4 linked regions of the Homo sapiens genome follow. The protein of the gene in region 2 interacts with the protein of the main gene of each other region in a pairwise test. Each region holds a gene or a part of one and is shown on either strand. Other genes may lie near its edges.

The links.
Region 1: the proteins of ATP6AP2 (region 2) and PTTG1IP interact in binary tests that used the Homo sapiens proteins (3 or more experiments, as listed by UniProt).
Region 3: the proteins of ATP6AP2 (region 2) and VKORC1 interact in a two-hybrid assay, tested with the Homo sapiens proteins (one study listed by BioGRID).
Region 4: the proteins of ATP6AP2 (region 2) and GLP1R interact in a protein complementation assay, tested with the Homo sapiens proteins (one study listed by BioGRID).

What each region holds. Positions count from the first base shown.
Region 1 is NC_000021.9:44,863,687-44,870,707, reverse strand, and holds part of PTTG1IP (pituitary tumor-transforming gene 1 protein-interacting protein isoform 1 precursor), read left to right. Parts: intron 1-5,260; coding exon 5,261-5,313; intron 5,314-5,319; exon of another isoform or gene 5,320-6,740; intron 6,741-6,838; exon of another isoform or gene 6,839-6,915; intron 6,916-7,021. UniProt on the Homo sapiens protein: May facilitate PTTG1 nuclear translocation.
Region 2 is NC_000023.11:40,583,969-40,590,989, forward strand, and holds part of ATP6AP2 (renin receptor precursor), read left to right. Parts: intron 1-5,017; coding exon 5,018-5,148; intron 5,149-7,021. UniProt on the Homo sapiens protein: Multifunctional protein which functions as a renin, prorenin cellular receptor and is involved in the assembly of the lysosomal proton-transporting V-type ATPase (V-ATPase) and the acidification of the endo-lysosomal system.
Region 3 is NC_000016.10:31,091,787-31,099,441, reverse strand, and holds the start of VKORC1 (vitamin K epoxide reductase complex subunit 1), read left to right. Parts: upstream 1-4,644; 5' UTR 4,645-4,712; coding exon 4,713-4,885; intron 4,886-6,020; coding exon 6,021-6,130; intron 6,131-6,575; coding exon of another isoform or gene 6,576-6,659; intron 6,660-7,655. Other genes in the region: zinc finger protein ENSP00000375192-like, read left to right, coding at 4,064-4,558.
Region 4 is NC_000006.12:39,044,126-39,051,801, reverse strand, and holds the start of GLP1R (glucagon-like peptide 1 receptor precursor), read right to left. Parts: upstream 3,022-7,676; 5' UTR 2,962-3,021; coding exon 2,884-2,961; intron 1-2,883.

The sequences.
Region 1 (7,021 bases), on a different chromosome or scaffold from region 2:
ACATTCAGTGTTAGACTTAAGCAACACAAGGGCAGTTTTTATCTCTGGTTTTCTAGCACATGTTTTTTCTGTATCTTGTGATGAGATAAGAGATAGTGATCACTTAGAGAAATAAACACTGCTTGTCTTTGAAGCAGTAACAAATGATTCATGCCTTTCTTTTTTTTTTTTTTTTTTTTTTTGAGATGGAGTCTTGCCCTGTTGCCCAGGCTGGAGTGCAGTGGCGTGATGTCAGGTCACTGCAACCTCCGCCTCCCAGGTTCAAGTGATTCTCCTGCCTCAGGGATTACAGGCGCATGCTATCACACCCGGCTAATTTTCGTATTTTTAGTAGAAATGGGGTTTCTCCATGTCGGCCAGGCCGGTCTCGAACTCCTGACCTCAGGTGATCTGCCCACCTCGGCCTCCCAAAGTTTTGGGATTACAGGCGTGAGCCACTGCACCCGGCCTTTCTTTTCTTACTATGCAAGATGATATGTTTTCAAAGGATAGAATAGAATGACCTTTTTTCATCTTTGATGTTATTTTCATGAGGACTGTAAACATTGGTGTTTTCCCCCTTATTGAAAGCCCGCTCTGTTCTTGGCCTGCTGGGAGCAGGAGGAATGTTGGGCGGTTTTTCTCTCCCTCTTCCTCTCATGCCTCTCCGCTGACTCAGACTGACCGGTAATCCAGAGGTCTGGGTCTGACTCAGACTGACCGGTAATCCAGAGGTCTGGGGATAGATGGAGTTGACGGTGTGTGTTTTGGAGCTCAGTTCTTTTAGTTCACACAAGACCTAGTTATCAGAAAGAAGCTTTAAAAATGAAAATCCCCTGTCACTTGTAGCCACTGTTGGGCTGAGGAGAGGAAGCACACGCACCCTTCCTCATGGATGACTTTTCAGGAAGGACTCGAGTGGGTGTGTTGGGCATACCCTGTCTCCTTGCCCAGATTGTATTTAGAAAGACCTCAGAGGCGCAGAAAGTTGAAGGAATAGTGCAGTGAAGTCCTGGATGCCCTTCCATTCTCAACATTGGCTCTGTTTGCCTTAGCACTCTCTAGATCTCCTTATTTTTTAAATTTATAATACAATTGTTTGTGTTTTATTTATTTTTAAAAATTGATTCAGCTGGGCACAGTTGCTCACACCTGTAATCCCAGCACTTTTGGAGGCCGAGGTGGGAGGATTGCCGGAGGCCAGGAGTTCAAGACCAGCCTGGGTGACATAGCAAGACTCTATCTCTACTTATATTTTAAAAATGTATTGTAAATTGACAATCATAATTGTGTTGCCTGTTGTTATTTTGACCAAACCATTTGAGAGTAAGTTACTATTGTGACCCTTTATCTCTACATTCTTCAGAGTCTATCTCCTAAGAAGGAGGCTGTTCTTCTTCATAACTGAAATTTATATAATTATCAAAATCTGGACATGTAACATTGAATACCTGATTTAACTTACAATCCATATACAAATTTAAACAGTTACCCCAACAATGTCCTGTTCCCCTACCCCCTGAAATCCAGGATCACAAGTTGAATTTAATTGTTGTGTCTCTTTAATCTCCATTGATCTAGAATAGTTCCTCTTTGTCTTGAGAAAGCCAATTTGTGGAAGGACCCTCAGTGGGTCTTACCGGGTGTTTCCTTTGATTCGATTCAGGTGCGCTTTGGCAGGAGCACGGCACAGTGATTCTGTCCTCTCAGTATCCTCCGTGGGAGGCACATGCTGTCACTTTGTCCCATCATCATGTTGTTCTGGGTTATGGTGGAGATAACTGATCTCTTGGAAGTGCCACCTCCTCTCCATGAGTAATGACTCACCTGTGGGGAGGTGCTTTGAGACTATCTTGTCAGTCCACAGGCAGACTCAGTGGTCTTGGCATCTTCGGGGGCAGACCCAGTGGACTTGGCATCTTCGGGGGCAGACCCAGTGGACTTGGCATCTTTGGGGAATTCTTGCCTGCATTAGTGTTGGCTGTGATGATTGTAAAATGGAGGCTTCTCAACTCATCATTTCTTCAGCATTTGCCACTCGGCCTTCTCTTTATTTCATGTCAGTGTGGCTTCTAGGGGTTAGAGTTCATGACTGTTATCATTTATTTTGATGTTCACTTGGCCCAGATATGGCCAGAAAGACTCCCTCCAGGCTGGCTTCTGGGTCCTCTTGCCATTCGTTCATGTCTGTGCCACTCTCGGGCACTGCACACTGTCTGTGGCTCATGTGTTCACTTCCTGCCCCACTTCTGGAATCAGCCATTTCTCCGAGGAGCCCTGCTTCCGGCTGATGGGGAACAGCACGTAGAAACCACGACCTGGGCACCAAGAATACACCTCTGCTGCTGGGTGTTGTCCTTTCTAGGCCCTTTCAGCAGACAGAGCTAGGAGTTGAATTTTAAAACCAAGAGTTCATCATGGTGCCCGTCACATTGCAGCACCACGGGGGTCTTTGCCCACCATCAGCCCACAGTTGCTCCTTCCTCCCACAGTGCCAAGTAGCTGGGGACTTGGGAACGTCAGCAGTGCTGTTCTTATCAAAGTTTCCTGTAACCCTGTCTCTCAGCAGTGATTTAAGAAATTAAGGCTTTTCACTGGTTGTCAATTTTCTTTGCCTCCCTGGGGCTGAATACAGCCTGTTGTTTCAAGTATCTAAAGTGGCTTAAAAGAAACTTCTCCATAAACCGAATAGCACATCGCTAGAGACTCTGAGAAAAGTACTACTTAGTGATAATTGCTATAGAATATGTGACAAAATGTGCTTTCGTTTCAAATAAAGTGGAGATTTATTCAGAAAAGTGGAGTGTAGAACTACACTGTTAAATAGAAGGATCACAACAATGTACTCGATGTATTATTTGTCCCTTTTGGTAAACGTAATGAGTGAAATTGTAAGTTAAAGCTGAAGCTCTTTTCCCTCCATTTCATCATGAAGCTCTTCACATGGACAGCAAAGCTGCAGGATTTTGTGGTGCGCGCTTGTATACCCGCCACTTCAGCCGTGTCGCCATGCTTTGCTGTGTTGCATTTGTCCAGGTGTCCCCCACAGCCTTCCACGCCTGCGTGAATGTCAGTCACAGACGTGAGCATCAGTCACAGACATGAGCGTGCTCTCCTGCCTTCACCATGCCTGTCAGGGACCAGAGTTCAGCAGTTGTCTTGTTTTTTCTTTTGAGATACATTTTTCTTACGGGAATATGTGGGAAACTTAATTGTGCTGTTCAGTGAGTTACACCCACATAGCCGCGACCGAGACAGACCCTCGATCTGGAAGATTCAGCCTCCCCCACGCATGGCCGTCCCCCAGGCAGCCATTGCCCCCCTCCCTCCATACGTGAGTCTCACCTTTTCTAGAGCGGCATAGCCACGAAATTACACGGTAGGGTCTTTTGTGGAAGGCGTCTTTCGCTCACATGATGTGCTTCAGACTCATCCATGTTTTACATAGAGCAGTTCGTTTCTTTTTATCGCTGAACAGTGTTAGTGATTGCACAGCCGCCTAGCTCACCTCCAAAGGAGAGACACGTAAAACAGCCTTTTGTGTTTGGAATGCCTTTTCCAGAAGATCCCTTGATACGAGAGCCGCATGTTTGCTATTCTTGATGCCCTGCTGGTATCGTGTGAGTGTTCCAGTCTGTCTGTCCACCCTCCTACAGAGTGACATCTGGGCTGTGTTCAGCTTGGGGCTGTCACGGAGCCTTCCTGCGCAGGTCCATCTGTGGATGCAGGCGCCTTCTCTCCTGGATGAAATACTAAGAGTGGAATTGCTGAGTCATAGGTGGTCGCATGTTTGTTTAGGAGCAGCTGCCAGACCTTCTTTGCAAATGGTTGAGCCATTTACACTTCCACCAACACTGTGTGAGAGTTCTGTTGCTGTACATCCTTGCCAACATTTGGTATTGTCATTCTCTTTAATTTTAGCCATTCTGGTAGGTGTGTAGTCATCTGTCATTTGGAGTTTTAATTTGCCTTTGTCTGGTGACTGGTGATGAGCACAGAGCTCTTTTCAGCGTGCACTGTGTTTGTGTGTGTGTGTGTGTGTGTGTGTTATGGGATTGGAGTAGGCAGTCTGTGTGTGTGTGTGTGTGTGTGTTACGGGATTGGGGGAGTACGCAGTCTGTGTGTGTGTATGTGTGTTATGGGATTGGGGGAGTAGGCAGTCTGTGTGTGTGTTACGGGATTGGGGGAGTAGGCAGTCTGCGTGTGTGTTACGGGATTGGGGGAGTAGGCAGTCTGCGTGTGTGTGTGTGTGTGTGTTATGGGATTGGGGGAGTAGGCACTCTGTGTGTGTGTGTGTGTGTGTGTTATGGGATTGGAGTAGGCAGTCTCTGTGTGTGTGTGTGTGTGTGTGTGTTATGGGATTGGAGTAGGCAGTCTGTGTGTGTGTGTGTGTGTTATGGGATTGGGGGAGTAGGCAGTCTGTGTGTGTGTTACGGGATTGGGGGAGTAGGCAGTCTGCGTGTGTGTGTGTGTGTTATGGGATTGGGGGAGTAGGCTGTGTGTGTGTGTGTGTGTGTGTTACAGGATTGGGGGAGTAGGCAGTCAGCTTGGTTGCATGTTGGAAGTTACTCATGCAGTCGCTCTTGCTTCTGACTGGCTTGAGTTCCAGAGCTGTTGGCTGCGTGGAGTTTGACCCCTTCCTTAGTAGCAGCGCTTTGAGTAGTGGGCAGAGTCTCAGGGTGTTCTGTGTGGTTGGAGCAGGCTGGTGTGCCGGGCCTCTCCCTTGGTACAGGTTGGTACAGGGAGCATAGCCCAGTCTGGAGTGAGGCTACCAGGGGACTAAGACCTTGCTTTGTCACATGAGATCTGTAGGTGAGTCCAAAGACACAAGTGTGCTGCGTGGCAGTGTCGCTGGCGTTGCTGTGGCCTCGGATGGAGGCTCTTGGGTTCCCAAAAGAGTGCCTGCTGATGAGCAGAAGGTCCCAGCAGGTTTGTGGTTAGTGATTACACAGCCACAGGGCACACTTCCTCTCACAGAGAGATCTGAAACACAGCCTTCTGTGTTGGCACTCTTCTCTCCCAGAAGAGCCCTTGTGGATAGGAGCCGCATGTTTATACTCTTTGTGCCCTGCCTGCAGCGGGGTTCCTGAACACTCGTTCCACATGTCTTGAAGAAGGCTTGTTATCAGCAGGGGCTCAGGAAGAGGACCTTCATTTGGTAATTCCACATCAGAGGTTCTTGGTGCCACACCCCTCACTGGTGCCCACCCTGCCCTGCTGGACTAATATTTACACTGCCTGATTCTCAGTGACTGACTTGTCTCTTGCCTCTTTCCTGCAGCTTGTTCTCAGAACACAAACAAAACCTGTGAAGAGTGCCTGAAGAACGTCTCCGTAAGTAGCACGTGGACTAGAGACCAGAGTGCCGTCCAGACCGTCCAAAGGCACACGGGCTTTCTCTAGGTCCAGGGATTCGCTGGGATGTGTGGAGGGCTCTGTTGTTTGGGATTTGGGGGGATGTTTTTTGGAATCGTTATCAAATGTTATTTTAGCCATTTCAGGTATATTAAACCTTCTCATGAAAACTGCAGTTACTGTCTGAGCATGGTCAGTATCCATGATTTCACTCCTATGCAGATGGGGCCAGCACTGCGTGGCCAGTCTTCCTAACGAGGCCCATAGCGAGAAATTTGGCTGTCCGCAAAGCTACACCCTCAGGTTGTGAGCCCGTGTTTTCCCAGGCTGTCGGGCTGCAGCAGAGACTGCTTTCTCAGCTGCTCACACAGGATTGGAAGGGGCACAGCAAGGAGAGAGAGGCACCAGCCCTCTGGGCCGGTGGGCCAGGCTGTCCATAGCACTCTCTGGTCGTGACCTGGGGCTCAGGTTTGGATTTTAACTACCTGTGTGACCTTCAACAAGAGGGTAGCGGTCTGGAGCAAAGTTCCCTAAGCCTCCACGGCATGAGGTGGGGCCCGAGACTCCCCGGGGTGCCTTCCCGATGGAGACTGATGCAGATGCCCACCTGGAAGAAGGAGCACCCGTGGTGGGGAAGCAGCATCACAGTGCAGGTCTTGTTAAAGACGTGTGAACAGGGCTGGGTGCAGTGGCTCACGCCTGTAATCCCAGCACTTTGGGAGGCCGAGGCAGGTGGATCACGAGGTCAGCAGTTGGAGACCAGCCTGACCAACATGGTGAAACCCCGTCTCTACTAAAAATACAAAACAATTAGCTAGGCGTGGTGGCGGGTGCCTGTAATCCCAGCTACTTGAGAGGCTGAGGCAGGAGAATTTCTTGAAACCGGAAGTCGGAGGTTGCAGTGAGCCAAGATTGTGCCACTGCACTCTAGCCTGGGCAACAAGAGCAAAAAACTGTCTTTAAAAAACAAAAACAAAAACAAAAACGTGTGAACAGGGTCCTTTGGTTTTCTCTGCGTGGTGGCCTGCGCCTGGGCCAGCCTGGCTGGCACCTCTTGGGCTTGCCTTGCCACGCAGCTCTTGGTTCGGCAGCACCCAAGTCTCCTCGCAGCGCTATGAAATCAGCACGGGAAACCTGAGGGAAGGCCCACGGCAGCGGGAAGTGGTTAGGCAGAAAACAGCATCCTGTGGGGCCTTTTTCTTAGGATTCCTGATCTCGCCCACCCCTTGCCCCTTCCAGTCAGGAGTTTACCAGGTTTTGAGAACTGCAGGGCCAGAGGCTTCCTTTCCCCGGCAATGAGGTTTCATGATATGAGGAGGCCGGGAAAGATGTATTCGATGATTTCTATTCTAAGGCATGAGCCATGTTCTTAAAAACTCTTCTTCCTCCACGAGACCGTAGCGTAGGTTTGAGGAGGCCGGGAAAGATGTATTCGATGATTTCTATTCTAAGGCATGAGCCATGTTCTTAAAAACTCTTCTTCCTCCACGAGACCGTAGCGTAGGTTCGAGACACACCCTGTCAGTTTGTGGGACTTAAGTGGATACTTGCATTTGCTGATTAAAAATTGAAAGACGCTGTTTCTGTGGTTTCAGATCTTGACATTGGTGATGTTGAACCTGCTCTAATGCGCCTGGTCCTGGTGCATTTTCTAGATGGTGCTTCTTTTTAGTCTCTGGATTTTTCT
Region 2 (7,021 bases):
TAGGAAAGCAGTAAGAGTCAAGAATGGAGCCCTCAGATCTCCAAAGTGGAGTATGCTAGGTGATCCATTTGGATGCCAGATGAATGTACTAGAAATTCCATTTATATCCTTTTTGTTTTTGTTTTTGAGACAGGGTCTCACTCCGTCACCCAGGCTGGAGTGCACTGGTGTGATCACAGCTCACTGCAGCCTCGACCACCCAGGCTCAAGCGATTCTCCCACCTCAGCCTCCCTAGTAGCTGGGACCACAGGCGCATGCCACCATACCCAGCTAATTTTTTGTTTGTTTTTGTAGAGATGAGGTCTCAAACTCTTGGGCTCAAGTGATCCTCCTCCTCAGCCTCCCAAAGTGCTGGGATTACACGCAGGTGTGAGCCATCGCACCCAGCCTCTATCTTTTTTTTTTTTTTTTTCCTTTTTTGAGACAGAGTCTTGCTCTGTCACCCAGGCTGAAGTGCAGTGGCACGATCTCGGCTCACTACAACCTCCGCCTCTGGGGTTCAAGTGATTCTTGTCCCTCAGCCTCCCAAGTAGCTGGGACTACTCTTGTTGCCCAGGCTGGAATGCAATGGCATGATCTTGGCTCACTGCAAGCTCCACCTTCCGGGTTCAAGTGATTCTCCTGCCTCAGTCTCCCGAGTAGCTAGGATTACAGGCATGCACCACCATGCCTGGCTAATTTTGTATTTTTTTAGTGGAGACGGGGTTTCTCCATGTTGGTCAGGCTGGTCTTGAACTCCCAACCTCAGGTGCTCTGCCTCTTGAGTAGCTGGGACTACAGGCATGCACCACCACATCTGTCTAACTTGTGTATTTTTTTGGTAGAGACGGGGTTTCACTATGTTCACCAGACTGGTCTCAAACTCCTGACCTCAAATGATCTGCCTGCCTCAGCCTCTGAAAGTGCTGGGATTACAGGCATGAGCCACCACACCTGGCCTCATTTTTGTATTTTTAGTAGAGATGAGGTTTCGCCATTATGGCCAGGCTGGTCTTGAACTCTTGGCCTCAAGTGATCCGCCTGTCTTGGCCTCCCAAAGTGCTGGGATTACAGGTGTGAGCCATCATGCCTGGCCTATTTTTATCTTATCTCTTTTTGAATAATAATGGTCAGGTATTTTGTAGACTGTCCCTCAATTTGGGTTTATCTGATGTTTTCTCATTATTAGATTGGGAAAAATACTACACAGGTATCTCATCCTTTTAAAAACTTTTATTTTTGTATGCTTTGTAATATAGCACAAATCAAATACATAATCTATTACTATAGTAGAAGTATATACTTTACATGGAGAGGATGAGAGGGACAGAGAGAAGAAAGAAGGGCTACTTTCCAATTTTGGGCTGACAGGGTTGAAATCTAAAAAGTTTGGCTACCACTGCTTTAAAGGACAGGAAGGGAAAGAAACAGAGGAGAAGCAGCCAAAGGGATTGCAAGGAAAACCAGGAGCCGTGGCTGCATGAAGACCAAAGCAGGGGCTTTTCAAGGAGGGAGTTGCCAGTATCAAATGCTTTGGGAAGTTAGATAAAATTAAGGGATGGAAATTGCCTTTTGAGTTTGGGGAGTCGTTTCAGTGGCATGGTGGGCTTGGAAGGTGTGGGCGGCCAGGTGGGGTGGCTCACGCCTGTAATCCCAGCACTTTGGGAGGCCGAGGCAGGCGGATTGTTTGAGGTCAGGAGTTCGAGACCAGTCTGGCCAACGTAGTGAAACCCTGTCTCTACCAAAAAAATACACAAGTTAGCCAGACGTGGTGGTGCGTGCCTGTAGTCCCAGCCACTCAGGAGTCTGAGGCAGGAGAATCTCTTGAACCTGGGAGGTGGAGGTTGCGGTGAGCTGAGATCCTTACCACTGCACTCCAACCTGGGTGACAGCAAGACCCTGTCTCAAAAAATAAAAATAAAAAAAATTTTTAAAATTTTGTGGGTTAAGTAGTAAACTTAAAATGAAGTATAGAAGCAAACGGTGGTTGACTGCTCTTCCTGGATTCTTCCTCTGAAGGGGAGCAAGGCTGGTAGCTGGTGGAGACTGGTAGGACCAAAGGAGGTTTTTTATGGTTTTAGTTATAGAATGGGAGTGCCTTGAGCGTATTTTTATGCTGAAGTGAAAGGGCCAGTGGAGAGGGAAAAAACTGGTGGTTTGAAGTGTGACTTCATTCATTCATTAACTCAACAAGTACTTATTGAGCACCAATGTGTCGGGCTCTGTTCTCAGCCCTGGGGATAGTGTGTGAACAAGACGCACTGAAATCCCCGCCTTCATGGAGCTTGTATTCTATAGGGCCATCTTTTGATGGCTATTACCATATAGCCACCTCACTCCTGATGTGTTGTCTGTCCTAGAAGAGTGGCTTCCTTAACAAACAGTGAAGGAACAAAGGTCCCTAAAAAGACTGAACACAGGATTGTCTTAGTCTGGAGGAGGGACATCCCTGCCCTCATGTCTGGAGGGAGAGGAGTTACAGATAGGGGCTTATGCAGATAAATTTGTGGTGGGGAGAGGAAGCAGGTAGCTCAAGAAATTCCTCTGTTTTCTCTGTGAAGCTGGAGATGAGGTTATCTGGTGAGACTGAGTTGGGGAGTGATAGCATAGGAAGTTGAAAGTTAGGAAGCCCATTTCAGTTCAGTACAAGGAAAAACTTTTCAAAGGACTAGAATGTTAGGAAAATGGAGCCAGTTGCTGGCAAATGTAGTTCGTATATTGAGGTGGTGTCCCCATCACTGGTAGTATTGAAATAGAGGAGGGGTGACTTTCTGCCAGGTATCCCTGAGACATGCTTATACTTATAATAAGCAGAAGTTTGGACAAATGACCTTCCTCTGTATAGGAGTCCCTGACTCTAAGGTTTTCTAAAGCTCTGGGCTTCTGAAGGACTGTTGTACAGGCATGGAAGTTGAAACTACGAAGCTGGGGCAAAGTTATTTGGTATAGGTTTGCCAGAATTGAATGAGTAGGGCCGTGTCTCAAAACAAGGGTATCTCCAAATCAAAATATGGTTTTTTAAATGTGTATGGTACCTGGGGCTGGGCGCGGTGGCTCACGCCTGTAATCCCAGCACATAGGGAGGCTGAGGCGGGCCGATCACTTGAGGTCAGGAGTTTGAGACCAGCTTGGCTAACATGGTGTCACCCTGTCTCTACTGAAAATACAAAATTTAGCCAGGCATGGTGGCACACACCTGTAATCCCAGCTACTTGGGAGGCTGAGGCAGGAGAATTGCTTGAACCTGGCAGGCAGAGGTTGCAGTGAGCCAATATTGTGCCACTGCACTCCAGCCTAGGCGACAGTGTGAGACTCTGTCTCAAAACAAACAAACAAAATATGTGTATGGTTCTTGGGAAGCATAGGTCTCTTGGTTCCCCATTTTTCTTAGTGTTTGCAGTACTACTACTTTAGTGAACCAAGATATCTATCAGTTACAAAAGACCATTCCATTCTGCTAATTTTTTTGGTCTGTCTTCAGCTAGAGCAGTTTGGACATTCCTGTTCTGACAGCTGTGCCGGATTGAAATTTGTAACTCCCGTGTATCAGCACCAACCTGAAGCCTTTTATTTACTGTCAATACTGCAACACCAAAACATTTACTGTTGCTTCCAACTTTATTTCCATCCCCTGTTAGTGGTACTTTCCTTAGGTCAAGAGAATAACACTGATTCTTTACTAAAGTCTAATTTTCCCATACTAGGTGTGGCTAACATTTGTTCTAGACTTGGAGCCCATTTTTTTAATAGGAACCCCAAATTAAAAAATCAGCCAGGCATGATGGCATGCATCTGTAGTCCTAGCTACTCAGAAGGCTGAGGCAGGAGGCTGAGGCAGGAAGATCACTTGGGCCCTGGAGTTTGAGGCTGCAGTGAGTCATGCAGACTCAAACTCAGCTTGGGTGACATAGCCAGACCCTGTCTCTAAAAAAATAACTAGGTACAAATTTCATCCTTAAATGTAAACAACCAATCGTGTTCACTTTGGTTGCCCAAAGACTACAAAAAGCTCAGGGGCTCTGCCCTTAGGCCTGGCAGTGAAGCAGTTCCCAGGCAGAGTTTCTGTTTTCAAGGGTGCTCAGGATTTGGAGAAAAGTTCCTTTCAGTAACTGAAATTAGCTACTTGTCCCTGTGTAAGCTAGACATCACGAGGTTAATAGATAATGGATGAAGAGGCCAAATACCTCATCCTTAGCTGTGGAGAGCTTATAAAATAGTCCCTTTATTCTCATCTTTATCTTTTAATCCTGAATCCTTAGACTAGTTGACTTTATCATTACAGAATACCTTTTCTTACCCTCTTGACATGTCAACTACAAATACTGTTTCCTGGACTTTGTTTCTAAAGTCTGAAGTGTTTTTATGTTTCTACTTGTGACATGTATGCCCCCCCCCCCCCCCAACATTTGACAGTCCTTATTTCACTAGGGTTGCCTATGGGACATAAGGAAAGATGTTACCTATCCTAAGACATAGTAACCTGGTAAAATCTTATAGTGAAATAATAGGAACTTTATGAATTTGCATTGTGTAGAAAGGATTGATGGTAGAAATAATTTAGAGATTTCAAGCTTCTTCCTTTTTAGTCTGTGCCTGGGCTTTGTTTTTTGTTTTTTAAATTTTGGAGATATGCCACTGATTTCTAATTCCTGCCAAATTGCCACATGCCTCTTTAAGAGCCATCAGTAGGAAGGTGTCTATATCATTAGGAAACCCTGTTTTGTAGTTGTACCTTTGTTGATCTCTTTTTGAGACTTTTGTTTGTTTCTTGTTCTTATCAGGCAGACCCTGAACCAGAATAGGTTCAGAGAGGCTCTGATAGTTGTACTTTTGTTCCAGCAGAATGTGTGGACTTAAATTCTTAGAGTGATACTTTGAAAAAGAATTTGTTATTGTTTAGGACTCAGCATTTTGACCAGTCATAATTTAATACGCTAAGTCAGTGGTGAATGGGGAAACATGTATTATATTTAATAATTGTCAAGGTAAATGATTTATGATGTTGATAATTCATTTACTGATCTGTTTTCTTTTCAGGTGTTTTGGGGAACGAGTTTAGTATATTAAAATCACCAGGGTCTGTTGTTTTCCGAAATGGAAATTGGCCTATACCAGGAGAGCGGATCCCAGACGTGGCTGCATTGTCCATGGGCTTCTCTGTGAAAGAAGTATGTATATATTTTTTAAATGTTTGGAGCTGCTTTTAAGAACATTTTTACTGATTTCTGCTAATAGCCCAAAAAAGCATCAAACGAACGTAGGTACGTTTGGTACAGATTACAAAAGTTAAAAAGCTCATCTGGACCAGGCACAGTGGCTCACGCCTGTAATCCCGGCACTCTGGGAGGCCGAGGTGGGAGGCTCAGTTGAACCCAGGAATTTGAGACCAACCTGGGCAACATAGTGAGACTCCCATCTCAAAAATAAATGAATTAATTTTTTAAAAACCCATTTGTAGTTGGGAAGATTTTGGATGAGTGCTTCAAGCTTGGCTTCTGAAACAAATCATTAGAAATCATTAACTATATAATTATTTATTCATAGTAGTGAAATTCTTTGTATATTAGAGAATGCATCTGTCCTACTCTTAATAGGATATCTACTTTCTGGTTTTTTTTTTTTAGTATAGGCGATAGATTCACTATGAATGATAAAATATATATGCATTATGCCTGAGGTTAGGAAAATAATGTGGTCAGTAGCCATGGGGCAGCCAAGGACCTTGGTTTCCTAGAATGGAGCTATGACCTGTTGTAGTAATTGGCTGCTTATGTGATTGTAGGGGGCGGGAGGGTCTAGATCCAGTCAATGTGAGAGATCGAAAGGTAAGGGCTCAGAAGAAAGGAAATACAGCTTGCTCGGTGCTATCATCTCCTTCTCTTTGTAAGTCTGGTGCTTTTGATGTGGTCTCTAGATATATATCATCAGTCACTGAAAGGAACTTTTCTCCAAATCCTGAGCACCCTTGAAAACAGAAACTCTACCTGGGAACTGCTTCACTGCCAGGCCTAAGGGCAGAGCCCCTGAGCTTTTTGTAGTCTTTGGGCAACCAAAGTGAACAGGATTGGTTGTTTACATTTAAGGATGAAATTTGTACCTAGTTATTTTTTTAGAGACAGGGTCTGGCTGTGTCACCCAAGCTGAGTTTGAGTCTGCATGACTCACTGCAGCCTCAAACTCCAGGGCCCAAGTGATCTTCCTGCCTCAGCCTCCTGCCTCAGCCTTCTGAGTAGCTAGGACTACAGATGCATGCCATCACGCCTAGCTGATTTTTTAATTTTTTGTAGAGACAGGGTCTCGCTATGTTGTCCAGGCTGGTAGGTCTTTAACTCCTGGCCTCAAGCAATCCTTTCTGCGTCAGCCTCCCAAAGTGCTGGGATTACAGGCACGAGCCACCACACCCAGCCTGTACCTAATTCTTTTTTTGTTTTGTTTTGTTTTGTTTTTTGCTACAGGGTCCCGCTCTATCACCCAAGCTAGAGTGCAGTGGCCTGATCTCGGCTTACTGCAACCTCCACCTCCCAGGTTCAAGAGATTCTCCCACCTCAGCCTCCCCGGTAGCTGGGACCACAGGCGTACAACACCATGCCCAGATCATTTTTATATTTTTTGTAGAGACAGGATTTTGCCATGTTGCTCAGGCTGGTCTTGAACTCCTGGACACAAGGAATCTACCTGCTTCAGCCTCCCAAAGTGCTGAGATGACAGGCGTGAACACCACACCTGACCATCTAGTTCTTTACAACCTTAAACTTGACTACTGATGGCTATTAAAATAACTGAGAAATAATTATTAGTAAACTAATGATAGTTACTTTTAGTAGGAATTGTTTTATTTATAAAGATCTTAGTCTAAAGAGGATGTTTTAATGACCATCTTGCTATGTCTCTGTGAAAGATAAAAGTGATGCTGTATATGAGGGCAAAAAATGATGTGGGGGAAGAAAATTTCCATGGCTACATGAAGAAAATATTTTGTGATCTGAAATTTGAAAGGTACCTATGTTTTGTTTACTTGCTTGCTTTTTTCCACAAAAGGTG
Region 3 (7,655 bases), on a different chromosome or scaffold from region 2:
CTCACATTAATTAATTAATTGATTAAATGCTAGAAGAAAATATGGTCAAAATCTTTTATAACTCTTGGAGTGAGGAAGGCAATCTCGGCTCACTACAACTTCCACCTCCCGGGTTCAAATGATTCTCCTGCCTCAGCCTCCTGAGTAGCTGGGATTACAGGCACCCACCACCATGCCCGGCTAATTTTTGTATTTTTAGTAGAGACGAGGTTTCGCCATGTTGGCCAAGCTTGTCTTAAACTCCTGACCTCAGGTGATCCACCCACCTCAGCCTCCCAAATTGCTGGGATTACAGGCATGAGCCACCATGCCCCGCCTAATTTTAAAAATGTTTATAAAGACAGAGTCTTACCACGTTGTCCAGACCTGTCTCAAACTCCTGGGCTCAAGTCATTGTCTTGTCTCAGCCTCCCAAAGTTCTGGGACTACAGGTGTGCACCACCACACCTGGCTAATTTTGTTTATTTTTTATAGAGTGAGGGTCTCCCTGTGTTGTCCAGGGTGTCTCAAACTCCTGGGCTCAAGTGGTCCTCCTGCCTCAGCCTCCCAAAGTGCTGGGATTATAGGCATAAGCCACTGCACCTGGCCCCAGTGTGTGTCTTCTGAGGCTAAGTCATAAAGAGATTGCGGCTTCTATTTTGCTTCCTCTTAGATCACTCATTCTGGGGGAAACCAACAATAAATAACAGGAACACACCAGGAGATCAGAGAAAGCTGAGATACAGGCCTAATGCCCAGTCCTCTGTATTCATTTCTAATTGCTGCTGTAACAAGTTACTGCACATTTAATGATGTAAAACAACACAAATTTATCTTACAGTTCTGTAGCTTAGAAGTCTGACAGAGTCTCACTGGGCTGAAATCAAGATGTTGATAGTTCCTTCCCGGTGACTCTAGAGTGAGAATCCAGTTCTTTACCCTTTCTTGCCTTTAGAGGCCACCCGTATTTATTAGCTCACAATCCCCTTCCTCCATCTTCAAACCAGAAACATTGCAGCTCTCTGTGTCTTTTTTCTTTACTCACATCTCCCTCTGACTTTCTTCTGCCATCCTCCTTCATTTTTTAAGGACCCCTGTGGGCCAGGCATGGTGGCTTATGCCTGTAATCCCAGCACTTTGAGAGGCGGAGGCAGGCGGGTCACCTGAGGTCAGGAGTTCCAGACCAGCCTGGCCAACATGGCAAAACCCCATCTCCACTGAAAATACAAAAATTGGGCCAGGCACGGCGGCTCACACCCGTAATCCCCATACTTTGAGAGGCTGAGGCAGGTGGATCACTTGAGGTCAGGAGTTCAAGACCAGCCTGGCCAACATGGTGAAATCCCGTCTCTACTAAAAAAAAAAAAAATTACAATAATTAGTCAGGCGTGGTGGCCAGCACCTATAATCCCAGCTACTTGGGAGGTTGAGGCACAAGAATTGCTTGAACCCGAGAGGGGGAGGTTGCAGTGAGCTGAGATTGCACCACCGTACTCCAGCCTGGATGACAGAGCAAGACTCTGTCTCAAAATAAAAATTAAGATAAATAATAAAAAATAAATAAAAATCAGCAAATTAGGCCAGGTGTGGTGGTGGCTCATGCCTGTACTCCCAGCACTTTGAGGTGGGAAGGTTGCTTGAAACCAGAAGTTTAGACCAGCCTGGGAAACAAAGTGAGACCCCATCTCTACAAAAATAAAAATAAATTAGCCAGGTGTGGTGGGACGTACTTGTACTCCTAGCTACTAGGGAGGCTGAGGTGCAAGAATCGCTTGAACCTGGGAGACGGAGGTTGCAGTGAGTTATGACAGTGCCACTACACTCCAGCCTGGGTGTCAAGGGTCTTTGAAAAAATAAACAAAATAGGCTGGGCGTGGTGGCTTACACTTGTAATCCCAGCACTTTGGGAGGCTGAGGCAGGCAGATCACAAAGTCAGGAGTTCGAGACCAGCCTGGCCAACACAGTGAAACCCCGTCTCTACTAAAAATACAAAAATTAGCCAGGCATGGTTGCACGCGCCTGTAGTCCCAACTGCTCGGGAGGCTGAGGCAGGAGAATGGCTTGAACCTGGGGGGGGGCGGAAGTTATAATGAGCCAAGATTGTGCCACTGCACTCCAGCCTAGGCAACAGAGCGAGACTCCGTCTCAAAAATAAAAATAAAAATAAATCAATAGAGCCTGGTATGATGGCTCACGCCTATAATCCCAGCACTTTGGGAGGCCCAGGTGGGTGGATCATCTGAGGTCAGGAGTTTGAGACCAGCCTGACCAACATGGAGAAACCCCATCTCTACTAAAAATACAAAAAATTAGCCAGGCGTGGTGGCACATGCCTATAATCCCAGCTACTCAGGAGCCTGAGGCAGGAGAATCGCTTTAACCGGGGAGGTGGAGGTTGCGGTGAGTCGAGATAGCACCATTGCATTCTAGCCTGGGCAACAAGAGCAAAACTCCATCTCAAAAATAAATAAATAAATAGATAGATAGGCTGGGCACGGTGGCTCACGCCTGTAATCCCAGCACTTTGGGAGGCCGAGGTGGGCGGATCACCTGAGGTCAGGAGTTCAAGACCAGCCTGGCCAATATAGCGAAACCCTGTCTCTACTAAAAATTTAAAAAATTAGCCAGGCATGATGGCGGGTGCCTGTAATCCCAGCTACTCGGGAGGCTGAGGCAGGAGAATCTCTCGAACCTGGCAGGCGGAGGTTGCAGTGAGCCGAGATCACACCATTGCACTCCAGTTGGGCAACAAGAGCGAAACTCCACCTCAAAAACAAAATAAAATAAAATAAAATCAGGAGATTGGTCAGCTTAATTCCATCTGCAACCTTAATTCCCTTTTGGCCATTTAACCTATCATATTCACAAGTTCCAGGGATTCATGCAGGGACATCTTTGGTGACCATTATTCTGTCTACCACACTCTCTAGAAGAGAGTAGATGTGAGAAACAGCATCTGGAGAGGGAGGAGCCAGCAGGAGAGGGAAATATCACAGACGCCAGAGGAAGAGAGTTCCCAGAAGGGTAGGTGCAACAGTAAGGGATCCCTCTGGGAAGTCAAGCAAGAGAAGACCTGAAAAACAACCATTGGCCGGGTGCGGTGGCTCACGCCTATAATCCTAGCATTTTGGGAGGCCGAGGTGGGTGGATCACTTGAGGTCAGGAGTTTAAGACAAGCCTGGCCAACATGGTGAAACCCTGTCTCTACTAAAAATACAAAAATTAGCCAGACATGGTGGCAGGCACCTGTAGTCCAAACTACTTGGGAGGCTGAGGCACGAGAACCACTTGAACCCTGGAGGCGGAAGTTGCAGTGAGCCGAGATGGCACCGCTGCACTCCAGCCTGGGCGACAGAGTGAGACTCCGTCTCAAAATAAGTAAATAAATAAATAAATAACCATTGGGTCTAGCGTCTTGGTGACACCAGCCACTAGGTGTCAGGGCAATGCTGGAGGCAGCAGCTAGTTTATGGCGTGGGCAGCAAGGAAGAAGTGAGGAAGTAGAGACTGGGAGTGTAGAATCTTTCCAAAAACTTGAATGTGGAGGGGTAGATGGGATAATGCCGGGAGAGGAGGCTGGTGAAGGACCTCTTAGTGAAGGGAGATTTGTTGCTGTTTCTGAGATGGGAAAGAGAAACAAGTTGCAGTGTAGATGGGGAGGATGGAGAGGTTGAAGGTGTAGGAGAGATGGGTCACCATCAGATGGGACGTCTGTGAAGGAGAGACCTCATCTGGCCCACAGCTTGGAAAGGAGAGACTGACTGTTGAGTTGATGCAAGCTCAGGTGTTGCCAGGCGGGCGCCATGATAGTAGAGAGGTTAGGATACTGTCAAGGGTGTGTGTGGCCAAAGGAGTGGTTCTGTGAATGTATGGGAGAAAGGGAGACCGACCACCAGGAAGCACTGGTGAGGCAGGACCCGGGAGGATGGGAGGCTGCAGCCCGAATGGTGCCTGAAATAGTTTCAGGGGAAATGCTTGGTTCCCGAATCGGATCGCCGTATTCGCTGGATCCCCTGATCCGCTGGTCTCTAGGTCCCGGATGCTGCAATTCTTACAACAGGACTTGGCATAGGGTAAGCGCAAATGCTGTTAACCACACTAACACACTTTTTTTTTTCTTTTTTTTTTTTGAGACAGAGTCTCACTCTGTCGGCCTGGCTGGAGTGCAGTGGCACGATCTCGGCTCACTGCAACCTCCGGCTCCCCGGCTCAAGCAATTCTCCTGCCTCAGCCTCCCGAGTAGCTGGGATTACAGGCATGTGCCACCACGCCCGGCTAATTTTTGTATTTTTAGTTGAGATGGGGTTTCACCATGTTGGCGAGGCTGGTCTTGAACTCCTGACCTCAGGTAATCCGCCAGCCTCGGCCTCCCAAAGTGCTGGGATTACAAGCGTGAGCCACCGTGCCCGGCCAACAGTTTTTAAATCTGTGGAGACTTCATTTCCCTTGATGCCTTGCAGCCGCGCCGACTACAACTCCCATCATGCCTGGCAGCCGCTGGGGCCGCGATTCCGCACGTCCCTTACCCGCTTCACTAGTCCCGGCATTCTTCGCTGTTTTCCTAACTCGCCCGCTTGACTAGCGCCCTGGAACAGCCATTTGGGTCGTGGAGTGCGAGCACGGCCGGCCAATCGCCGAGTCAGAGGGCCAGGAGGGGCGCGGCCATTCGCCGCCCGGCCCCTGCTCCGTGGCTGGTTTTCTCCGCGGGCGCCTCGGGCGGAACCTGGAGATAATGGGCAGCACCTGGGGGAGCCCTGGCTGGGTGCGGCTCGCTCTTTGCCTGACGGGCTTAGTGCTCTCGCTCTACGCGCTGCACGTGAAGGCGGCGCGCGCCCGGGACCGGGATTACCGCGCGCTCTGCGACGTGGGCACCGCCATCAGCTGTTCGCGCGTCTTCTCCTCCAGGTGTGCACGGGAGTGGGAGGCGTGGGGCCTCGGAGCAGGGCGGCCAGGATGCCAGATGATTATTCTGGAGTCTGGGATCGGTGTGCCCGGGGAACGGACACGGGGCTGGACTGCTCGCGGGGTCGTTGCACAGGGGCTGAGCTACCCAGCGATACTGGTGTTCGAAATAAGAGTGCGAGGCAAGGGACCAGACAGTGCTGGGGACTGGGATTATTCCGGGGACTCGCACGTGAATTGGATGCCAAGGAATAACGGTGACCAGGAAAGGCGGGGAGGCAGGATGGCGGTAGAGATTGACGATGGTCTCAAGGACGGCGCGCAGGTGAAGGGGGGTGTTGGCGATGGCTGCGCCCAGGAACAAGGTGGCCCGGTCTGGCTGTGCGTGATGGCCAGGCGTTAGCATAATGACGGAATACAGAGGAGGCGAGTGAGTGGCCAGGGAGCTGGAGATTCTGGGGTCCAGGGCAAAGATAATCTGCCCCCGACTCCCAGTCTCTGATGCAAAACCGAGTGAACCGTTATACCAGCCTTGCCATTTTAAGAATTACTTAAGGGCCGGGCGCGGTGGCCCACTCCTGTAATCCCAGCACTTTGGGAGGCCGAGGCGGATGGATCACTTGAAGTCAGGAGTTGACCAGCCTGGCCAACATGGTGAAAGCCTGTCTCTACCAAAAATAGAAAAATTAATCGGGCGCTATGGCGGGTGCCTTAATCCCAGCTACTCGGGGGGGCTAAGGCAGGAGAATCGCTTGAACCCGGGAGGCGGAGGTTTCAGTGAGCCGAGATCGCGCCACTGCACTCCAGCCTGGGCCAGAGTGAGACTCCGTCTCAAAAAAAAAAAAAAAAAAAAAAAAAAAGAGACTTACTTAAGGTCTAAGATGAAAAGCAGGGCCTACGGAGTAGCCACGTCCGGGCCTGGTCTGGGGAGAGGGGAGGATAGGGTCAGTGACATGGAATCCTGACGTGGCCAAAGGTGCCCGGTGCCAGGAGATCATCGACCCTTGGACTAGGATGGGAGGTCGGGGAACAGAGGATAGCCCAGGTGGCTTCTTGGAAATCACCTTTCTCGGGCAGGGTCCAAGGCACTGGGTTGACAGTCCTAACCTGGTTCCACCCCACCCCACCCCTCTGCCAGGTGGGGCAGGGGTTTCGGGCTGGTGGAGCATGTGCTGGGACAGGACAGCATCCTCAATCAATCCAACAGCATATTCGGTTGCATCTTCTACACACTACAGCTATTGTTAGGTGAGTGGCTCCGCCCCCTCCCTGCCCGCCCCGCCCCGCCCCTCATCCCCCTTGGTCAGCTCAGCCCCACTCCATGCAATCTTGGTGATCCACACAGCTGACAGCCAGCTAGCTGCTCATCACGGAGCGTCCTGCGGGTGGGGATGTGGGGAGGTAACTAACAGGAGTCTTTTAATTGGTTTAAGTACTGTTAGAGGCTGAAGGGCCCTTAAAGACATCCTAGGTCCCCAGGTTTTTTGTTTGTTGTTGTTTTGAGACAGGGTCTGGCTCTGTTGCCCAAAGTGAGGTCTAGGATGCCCTTAGTGTGCACTGGCGTGATCTCAGTTCATGGCAACCTCTGCCTCCCTGCCCAAGGGATCCTCCCACCTTAGCCTCCCAAGCAGCTGGAATCACAGGCGTGCACCACTATGCCCAGCTAATTTTTGTTTTTGTTTTTTTTTGGTAGAGATGGTGTCTCGCCATGTTGCCCAGGCTGGTCTCAAGCAATCTGTCTGCCTCAGCCTCCCAAAGTGCTGGGGGGATTACAGGCGTGAGCTACCATGCCCCACCAACACCCCAGTTTTGTGGAAAAGATGCCGAAATTCCTTTTTAAGGAGAAGCTGAGCATGAGCTATCTTTTGTCTCATTTAGTGCTCAGCAGGAAAATTTGTATCTAGTCCCATAAGAACAGAGAGAGGAACCAAGGGAGTGGAAGACGATGGCGCCCCAGGCCTTGCTGATGCCATATGCCGGAGATGAGACTATCCATTACCACCCTTCCCAGCAGGCTCCCACGCTCCCTTTGAGTCACCCTTCCCAGCTCCAGAGAAGGCATCACTGAGGGAGGCCCAGCACCATGGTCCTGGCTGACACATGGTTCAGACTTGGCCGATTTATTTAAGAAATTTTATTGCTCAGAACTTTCCCTCCCTGGGCAATGGCAAGAGCTTCAGAGACCAGTCCCTTGGAGGGGACCTGTTGAAGCCTTCTTTTTTTTTTTTTTTAAGAAATAATCTTGCTCTGTTGCCCAGGCTGGAGTGCAGTGGCACAATCATAGCTCACTGTAACCTGGCTCAAGCGATCCTCCTGAGTAGCTAGGACTATAGGCATGTCACTGCACCCAGCTAATTTTTTTTTTTTTTTTTTTTTTTTTTTTGCGACATAGTCTCGCTCTGTCACCAGGCTGGAGTGCAGTGGCACGATCTTGGCTCACTGCAACCTCTGCCTCCCGGGTTCAAGCAATTTTCCTGCCTCAGCCTCCTGAGTAGCTGGGACTACAGGCGCGTGTCACCACGCCCAGCTAATTTTTGTATTTTTAGTGGAGACAGGGTTTCACCATGTTGGCTAGGATGGTCTCAATCTCTTGACCTGGTGATCCATCCGCCTTGGCCTCCCAAAGTGCTAGGATTACAGGCGTGAGTCAACCTCACCGGGCATTTTTTTTTTGAGACGAAGTCTTGCTCTTGCTGCCCAAGCTGGAATGTGGTGGCATGATCTCGGCTCACTGCAACCTCCACCTCCTAGGTTCAAGCGATTCTCCACCTTA
Region 4 (7,676 bases), on a different chromosome or scaffold from region 2:
TTGCACACACAGGGACTCATTCCCACACAGACTGTTACACACAGGGTCACTCACACATACCTGGGAACTGGGGGTTCATATAGCCTACTCCCTTCTCCCCCTGGTCTGTCTCAGACTACCTGTCTGTATCTCTGTCCCCTCCTCCAACCACCACCACCACCACACACACATAGGAATTTTCCTAGGGGCAGGCTGCAGCTGAGGAAGCCTGTTTTGCCTTGGTGCAAGGCATTCGAGGGCAGGATGTGGTTTCTTGGTTGCTCCTGCCCCAGCCCCCAGCCTGGGTCCTGTCCAGGAGGAAACCCAGCTTAGAACAATGTCCGCACTGATCAAGGCTCAGCCCTGGACTCCACCTGCCATTCACTAGAGTACAGAGACCCAGGGTCTCCAACAGCCCCTCTCTCATACTATCCTGCAGCCCTGGAAAACACTTCTGGATCCCCAAGGACAAATGGGTCAGTTCTGCCATTTGACTAAAGTGACTAAAGTTGCCATTTCAGGGGCCAGTGTCTCAATCCCCTCCATAACCCTATGTGATAGAGCTTATGATCCTTATTTACAGATAAGGACATGTATTGGGGATAACCAAGTGTCCAACTCCAGATCACCAGCTAATAGCAGACCCTATATTTGAATCCAGTTGTGTCTGATTTTAACTTTGAGTGTCAAAGGCTTGCCTGTCTCCTCAGTAGGCCCGCTCCCTCACCAGGGTATTGGAGAGGTAAGGACCAGGGTAGGGGAATGAGCCTTCCCAGCAGCAATGAAAGAGTAGCCTAGGGCACCTTCTTCAGAAGTCAACTCAGCCATCCCCCTACCTGCAGGGATGCTGTTTCCAGCCTCACGAGACCTGACAGTGAGCAGCTCACTCTCAGAGGTCTCCCTTCAGTCCCGTCTGAGTAGGAGGTGTTAGGTCAAGAGCCCAGCCCTTCACCCCTTTCTCTTCCCTGCTCCTGAACTGCTGGGCTACTTTATACAGGGGACCCTCTTTTTCTGAGCTTTCATTCCCCCATCAGCAACATGAGGGGAGTAACTCTAACCCTTTTGACTTCATAGACAGAAAACAAAATGCAAAATACACTATTTTTTAGTCTTATAAGCACGCATGATGTTGTGTCATAATTGTTGCAATCTATCCTTAACACCTCCTGTGACTCAGATCTCTGTGGCAGCTCAGTTTCCCATGACAAGAGCACCCCCTCAAAGCTCCCCTCCCTGCTAGGACCTGTCCCCTCCTATCCTTCTCTACCACCCCAATCCTGTTATGCCCCCAGGATGCCCAGCTTTTGCCTTAGGCCTGGGGCTAAGGAGTAAAATCGGATCAGAGGAAAGTGTGGGTTCAGGAGCCTGACACTTCTGGGAATAAGGCCTCTGGGAAGACAGCTCACAGAAACTTTCCTCTTCCCTTTGCTTTCTTCCCTTCATTCAAACCAGACCTGTAAACCTGGCCTGGAGGAGGATGGAACCAGGAAGCAGAGCCTCCACCCCTATCCCAACCCAGTCCGTAAGAGGAGGGAACGATGGGCAAGAACCACATCTTGGGTCTGCAGCCCTGGCCCCTGAAAGATCCCAGCCGCACCAGGAAAACCAAGGCCTGGCTGGGGGCGCTGTGAGGAAGGTGTCTTGGAAGGGGGAGGTTGTCTCCTGGGGCTCAGGACAGCAGCTGGGCTGGGGAACAGGGGCAGGGAGAGGATGCGTCTGGAAAATAATCTGGGGGCTGAAAAATGTGCTGGCATCTTAGCTGAGAGGTATGTCTGTCCACATCTGGGGTTTCCGCCGAGGTGGAGTCTGCCCTCACCAAGGCAATGGTTCTGGGACAAACTTCAAGGTTCGTTCAGGTCCACTCCCCACAGATCTCAGTTCTTTAGGTCTGGGGGTAGCAGTGGGAGGTGATAGGAAGAACCTGTTTCCTGACCCAGGACAGGCCACCCAAGTCTATGTCTCCTCTCTGCTCAAGCAAGTCCCAGCATCTTTGGACAGCTCCCCTCTTCAAAAGCAGCTGACCACTGTCCCTAGCCCAGGATCCCAGGGCAGGAAAAGCAACAAGGGCAAGAGAGAGGGGCTGCGGTGGTCCACCTGTGGCCTGCTCTCTGGTGGCACCAAGGAGCCCAGGTGTTCTTGCGTGTCCCAGTATGCCTTCTCTTGGGGCCTGCTGTCAGTGCAGGATGAGAATGGGAGGTCAGCAGAGTGGGTGAGTGGGGGCGCCTGGCTGCTTCCAGGGGGGCACTGAGCCTTCTGCCTGTTTGCTACAGAGGCTGGTAGGGGACGGGGGGTAGGTTCCATCTGGGAGGTCACTGGGAAGGACAAGCTGCCACCGCAGGGCCCCAGGAGCCATGAATCAAAGGCTGTGCTGGGGGCTGATGAGAAAGGGAGAGGAGCCGGGTCTCCGCACCCTGGCCCTCTCAGCTCCTCCCAGGGTCTTCTCAGGGTCTTTGAGCAGGTGGATTGTCTGGGGAGGCACTGCGGGAGAGGGGTCTGGGTCAGACTGTGGGGCAGAGGGAGTCCGGGAGGATGCCGGGCTGTGCCAGGGCCGCTGACACGGTTTAGAAGGAGTTGGGAAAGTGCTGGGGACAAAGGAGAAGCGGAGCAGAAGTCAGCGCAGGGCGGCCGCGGGGCAGCGGGTGCCCGGGCAGAGGGACCCGGGTGGCGAGGAAGAGGGCGCCTCGCTGGGGTTGGGGGGAATCCTCTGTAGTCCAAGCCCTCACCTGGGCCTTCCAGCCCAGGGGCACCAAGTCTCCAGTCCCTACTCCCCCCGAGGCTTTCGGATGCCCCCGCCAGCGGTCTCGGAGTTTCGTTCAAGTCCCGGGGCCCTCCACCAGGACACTGCGCCTGCAGCCCGCAGAGCCACCCGCCTCCCCCGGTGTCGTCGGGGTCCCTGGATCTCACCTGGGGGCGGGGGCCGGCCCTGCCCACCATCCCGAGCAGCAGCAGCGCAAGGCGCAGCGGGCCGGGGGCGCCGGCCATGGCGGGGAGTTCAGGACTGGGCCATCGCTGCCACCTGCGGAACCGCGTGCGGAGACTGATCCCGGGCTGGTGGCGGGCGGTGGGGGAGGAGCCGGCGAGGGGCCGCCCTGCCCGCGGGAGGGGCCTGGCAGGGTCCCGGTTCTTCCGGCCGCCAGAGACCCCTGGGCCCGCCCCGCCGCACCCCTCTGCCGGTCCCGGGCCAGGAGATAGCGGGCACTGCTCTCCGAGCGAGCGCGGCTGGGAATCAGGAAGCGCAGGAGGCGGCCACCAGCTCTGAGCGCCGACAGTGCGCCTGGCCGGCTTTCAGCGACAAGCCAGGCCCTCCTCCCACCCTGGCACCCCGGACCTCCTCCCGGGTCTCCCAGCTGAGGAAAGCTACAGCAACCCCCGCCCATTCAGGGTCCCTCAAAGGAAACTGAGGCCTGAGGAATGGACGGGACTTGTCCAAGGTCACACGGCTTGGCAGGCCACTCCTGGAAAGTATCCTCAGAGCCAGGGGTGACTAATAAGAACTTTTTTTTCCCAGGATTACCCCTTCCCAGGTCCTCTTCTCATTCCCATGTTCTGTCCTGAAGGCAGGCCCAGGATAGTCAAGGTTGGGGGTGGGGAGACTGACAAATGGATCCACAGAACTCTGACAGTCGCAAGGGTCTAGAGGTTCCCCTCTACCTGGAAACTTCAGCATTGCAGGGCAGGGAGGGATGAGGCTGGGGTCTGCCTTTCTGGAAGCTTCCCTGCCACCTCTTGCAGCTCCAGCCTCCTGCTCTTGTAACCTGTGTATGTGTGATAATGTGTGTCCATGGTTGTTCCTGCCTTCTTTATCTCTCTCCCTGCTTCGCTTCTTGGGGACTCTGGATCTTTCCTGTCTGTTTCCACTCCCACCCCTAAACACTGCAGGGCCCTCAGGTTCCCTTCTTACACCCAACAAGTGGAAAGAGAATGCTAAGAGGGCACTGACTGTATCTTCCCTAATGCTCTTGAGAAGTGGGGATGGGAAAAGAGGATCCCCCACCAAAGAACCTTGATGCCACTCTTAGGAAAGATGAGTTGTGGCAGAGCCCAGCCTCGGACCTGCCGTGGGGCATGTCGACTAAAGGGACAGGAAGTTTGTGAAAGTAGCTACTCCTGGGGAGAGAACTGAACTTCTCAAAGTCCTGAGGAAGGCTGGACCTGCCTGAGCCCAGGGAAGGAGACAGCCAGTGGGAGGGGCCCCTGGCTTCCATTCACCAGGAGAGACTCTCCTCTCCAGCAAGCTCTGGTTCCACCACCTGAGACTCGTTTATTCCCTCCCCTCCCAAGAGGTCAGTCTAGCAGGGACCTTCTAGGTATCACTTAGGATTAGGTTGTTCACCTGGGAGTGACAGAAAATCCCACCCCAAACAACAATGGCATAACCAAGGGCTCTCTCATGTAAAGCAAGGCCAGAGGTTCAGCCCAAGGTTGGAGTGGCTGCTCCCTGATCATCAGGGTGCCTGGGTCTTCTAGCTTCCACCATCCTTTGGTCCAAGATTTCCACCTCATGATCCAAGGTGGCTGCTCCAGCCACGATATCCAAATTCCAACCAGCAGGAAGGAGGAATGGGAAGGAGATGGGTGCACCTCCACCCATAAAGACACATCTTGAAAGTGGCAGCCATCAATTCCACACCTCTTGCTCAGAACTTAGTCACATAGGCACTGCTAGCTGCAAAGGAGGGTGGGAAAAGCACCCTCTATTCCAGGCAACCATGGGCAAGGTTAAATACTGGGCTTTTATACTCTAGAAGAAGGCAAATTTTAAAAAAGATACTGGAAGTGAGTTTTAGGCACTGCTATATCAAGTTTAGGGTGGAGAGAGGAGAAAGGAAGAGATAGAGAAGCTATTCAGACAGAACTGGGGTCTTTATCATGAATTTGTCAGCCTCCAGATTACATTGATTCAGCAAGTATCTATCGAAAACCTACCATGTGCCAGACACCATTCTAGGTCCTGGGGATACAATTGGTGATGCTGTCCCTATCTTCAGAGAGATTATATTCTAATACAGGAGGGAAACATTAAATAATTATTGGAGTCATTTATAATTGTGTAAGCACTATTATGGTAAGCAAATGCCCCCAGTACTTATAAGGCCATGTTTTCTCTGCCAGGGGGCTTTCTCTGACTTGGAGAACATTTTTGCATTCAGCCAGTGCAGGGTAGGTACCCCTAAGAGCAGCTGTCAACCATGGATGGACAGGAGTGGATGGATAAATACCCCATCCAGAGGTGTGTACCACAGTCTCCCAGAGGTCCCCTGTGCGATGGAGCCCAGCTTCCCACAGCAGTTACCTGCTCAGTAATGCACCCTGTGTTGGCTTCATTTCCTCACTTGTCCCACTTTCCCACAGTAGGGTACCAGTGCTTCCGGGGTCACACCTCACATAAACAATTTGGCTGGGCATGGTGGCTCACCGTCTGTAATCTCAGCACTTTGGGAGGCCAAGGTGGGCGGATCACCTGAAGTTGGGAGTTCGAGACCAGCCTGACCAACATGGAGAAACCCCATCTCTACTAAAAATACAAAATTAGCCGGGCGTGGTGGTCCATGCCTGTAATCCCAGCTACTCGGGAGGCTGAGGCAGGAGAATCGCTTGAACCTGGGAGGTGGAGGTTGCAGTGAGCCAAGATCATGCCATTGCACTCCAGCCTGGGCAACAAGAGTGAAACTCCGTCTCAAAAAATAAAATAAATGAAAAATAAATAAATAATTTGTCCTTAAATCCTTATCTCAGGATCTGCTTCTGGGAGAGCCCAGCTGAAGACAGTGGGCATATGAGGGTATTTAGGAAGCTCAGGGCCTGTCCCTCCTCTTAACATCTGGGGGTCCAAAAACCTCTGAGTTTGCTGTGATGCTAGGACAGAGTATGGACTCGGGAATACAGTTTCCTTCTTTCCCCTTGCTGTTACCAGGGCCTCTCACTCAGGCTCCTTAGAGCAGAGGAAAGGATGAGCTCCCTAAGAGCAGAGATTTGAATGGATGGCATACTGTTTGGTAAACTGTTAACACCTGTAATCCCAGCTACTCGGGAGGCTGAGACAGGAGAATCGCTTGAACCCAGGAGACGGAGGTTGCAGGGAGCAGAGATCATGCCACTGCTCTCCAGCCTGGGTGACAGAGCAAGACTCCATCTCAAACAAACAAACAAGCAAAAACCCTTGAAAACAAAGACAATAGCTACTACTTATTGGGCCAGGAGCTGCTGAATGCTTGGTGTACCCTGATCTCATCCAGTATTATGCACAAGTGTTATTGTGCCAATTTTATGGATGAGGAGACCGAGGCTCAGGTATGAAAAGTGAGTTGCCCATAAAAGCAAACAGGGCATTCATCCCAGGTCCACCTGCCCTGAGAGCTGGTGCCGACACCCCCAATAGGCAGCTGAATTTGTGGCAGCACAGAGGATGCAGGCTGCAGCTCAGCCAGCCTGTCCGGGAGCACCTCGCTCTACAGCCCAGAGCTCCGGGTCCTGCTCCTTACCCTTAGGCCCAAGGCTTCTCCAGTGACCCTAGCGTGGGGTGCCCTCAGCTTCCACTAAGAAAATGTGGTATTGAGATTGTCTTCAGAAATAGGAATGGGAGCAACTGATGTGTGCTCCTGAGGAAAAGGTGCTGTAAGGCCCATTCGCCAAGGAGGCAGACCTGAGAGCAGGCCACCCGGCCCTCTTTTGTCTTCAACAGGAAAACCTTGTCCCTAGCAGGAAGACCAGGTCAGTGGACAGGACAGATTTTTTTTTTTTTTTTTTGAGACAGAGTCTCATATTGTCACCAGGGCTGGAGTGCAGTGGCGACACTGCAACCTCGCCTCCTGGGTTCAAGTGATTCTCCTGCCTCAGCCTCCCCAGTAGCTGGGATTACAGGCACCTGCCACCACGCCCAGCTAATTTTTGTATTTTTAGTAGAGATGGGATTTTGCCATGTTGGCCTGGCTGGTCTCGAACTCCTGACCTTGTGATCCTCCCGCCTCAGCCTCCCAAAGTGCTGGGATTACAGGCGTGAGCCACCGCGCCCGGCCCAGGACAGATCTTTCACTTGAGAGGAGGCAGGAGGGAGAGAGAGGCAGGAAAAGAGAGGGAGGTTGTAGAGTGGAGAGGAGGAGAGGGAAGGAAAGGGAATTGCTAGAAAAGACAGGTGTCTCTTCTTTTTTTTAATTTTTTTTTTGAGACAGAGTCTCGGTCTGTCACCCAGTCTGGAGTGCAGTGGCGCAATTTCAGCTCCTTGCAACGTCCGCCTCCCGGGTTCAAGTGATTCTCGTGCCTCAGCTTCCCAAGCAGCTAGGATTACAAGCTTATGCCACCATGCCCAGCTAATGTTTGTATTTTTAGTAGAGACAGGGTTTCACCATGTTGGCCAGGCTGATCTCAAACTCCTCGCCTCAAGTGATCCACCCACCTCAGCCTCCCAAAGTACTGGGATTACAGGCATGAGTCACTGAGCCCGGCCAGGACAGGTATCTCTTGCACGCATAGTTCAGGTTTCTTTCCAAGCTCCATGTCCCTAAGAAACTCATTTACTTCCCAAAGTTCAAGACCACATTCATCTTCTGAGTGATGAAATAAGGAAAGAGCCAGCATTTTTTTCAACCTGATATAAACACACATGCATACACATACCTAAACACAGATTTTTAGAGTCTGACAGTCAAATCCATCTCAGTCACTTACTCTGTATCCTTAATAGCACTAAACCTTGGTAT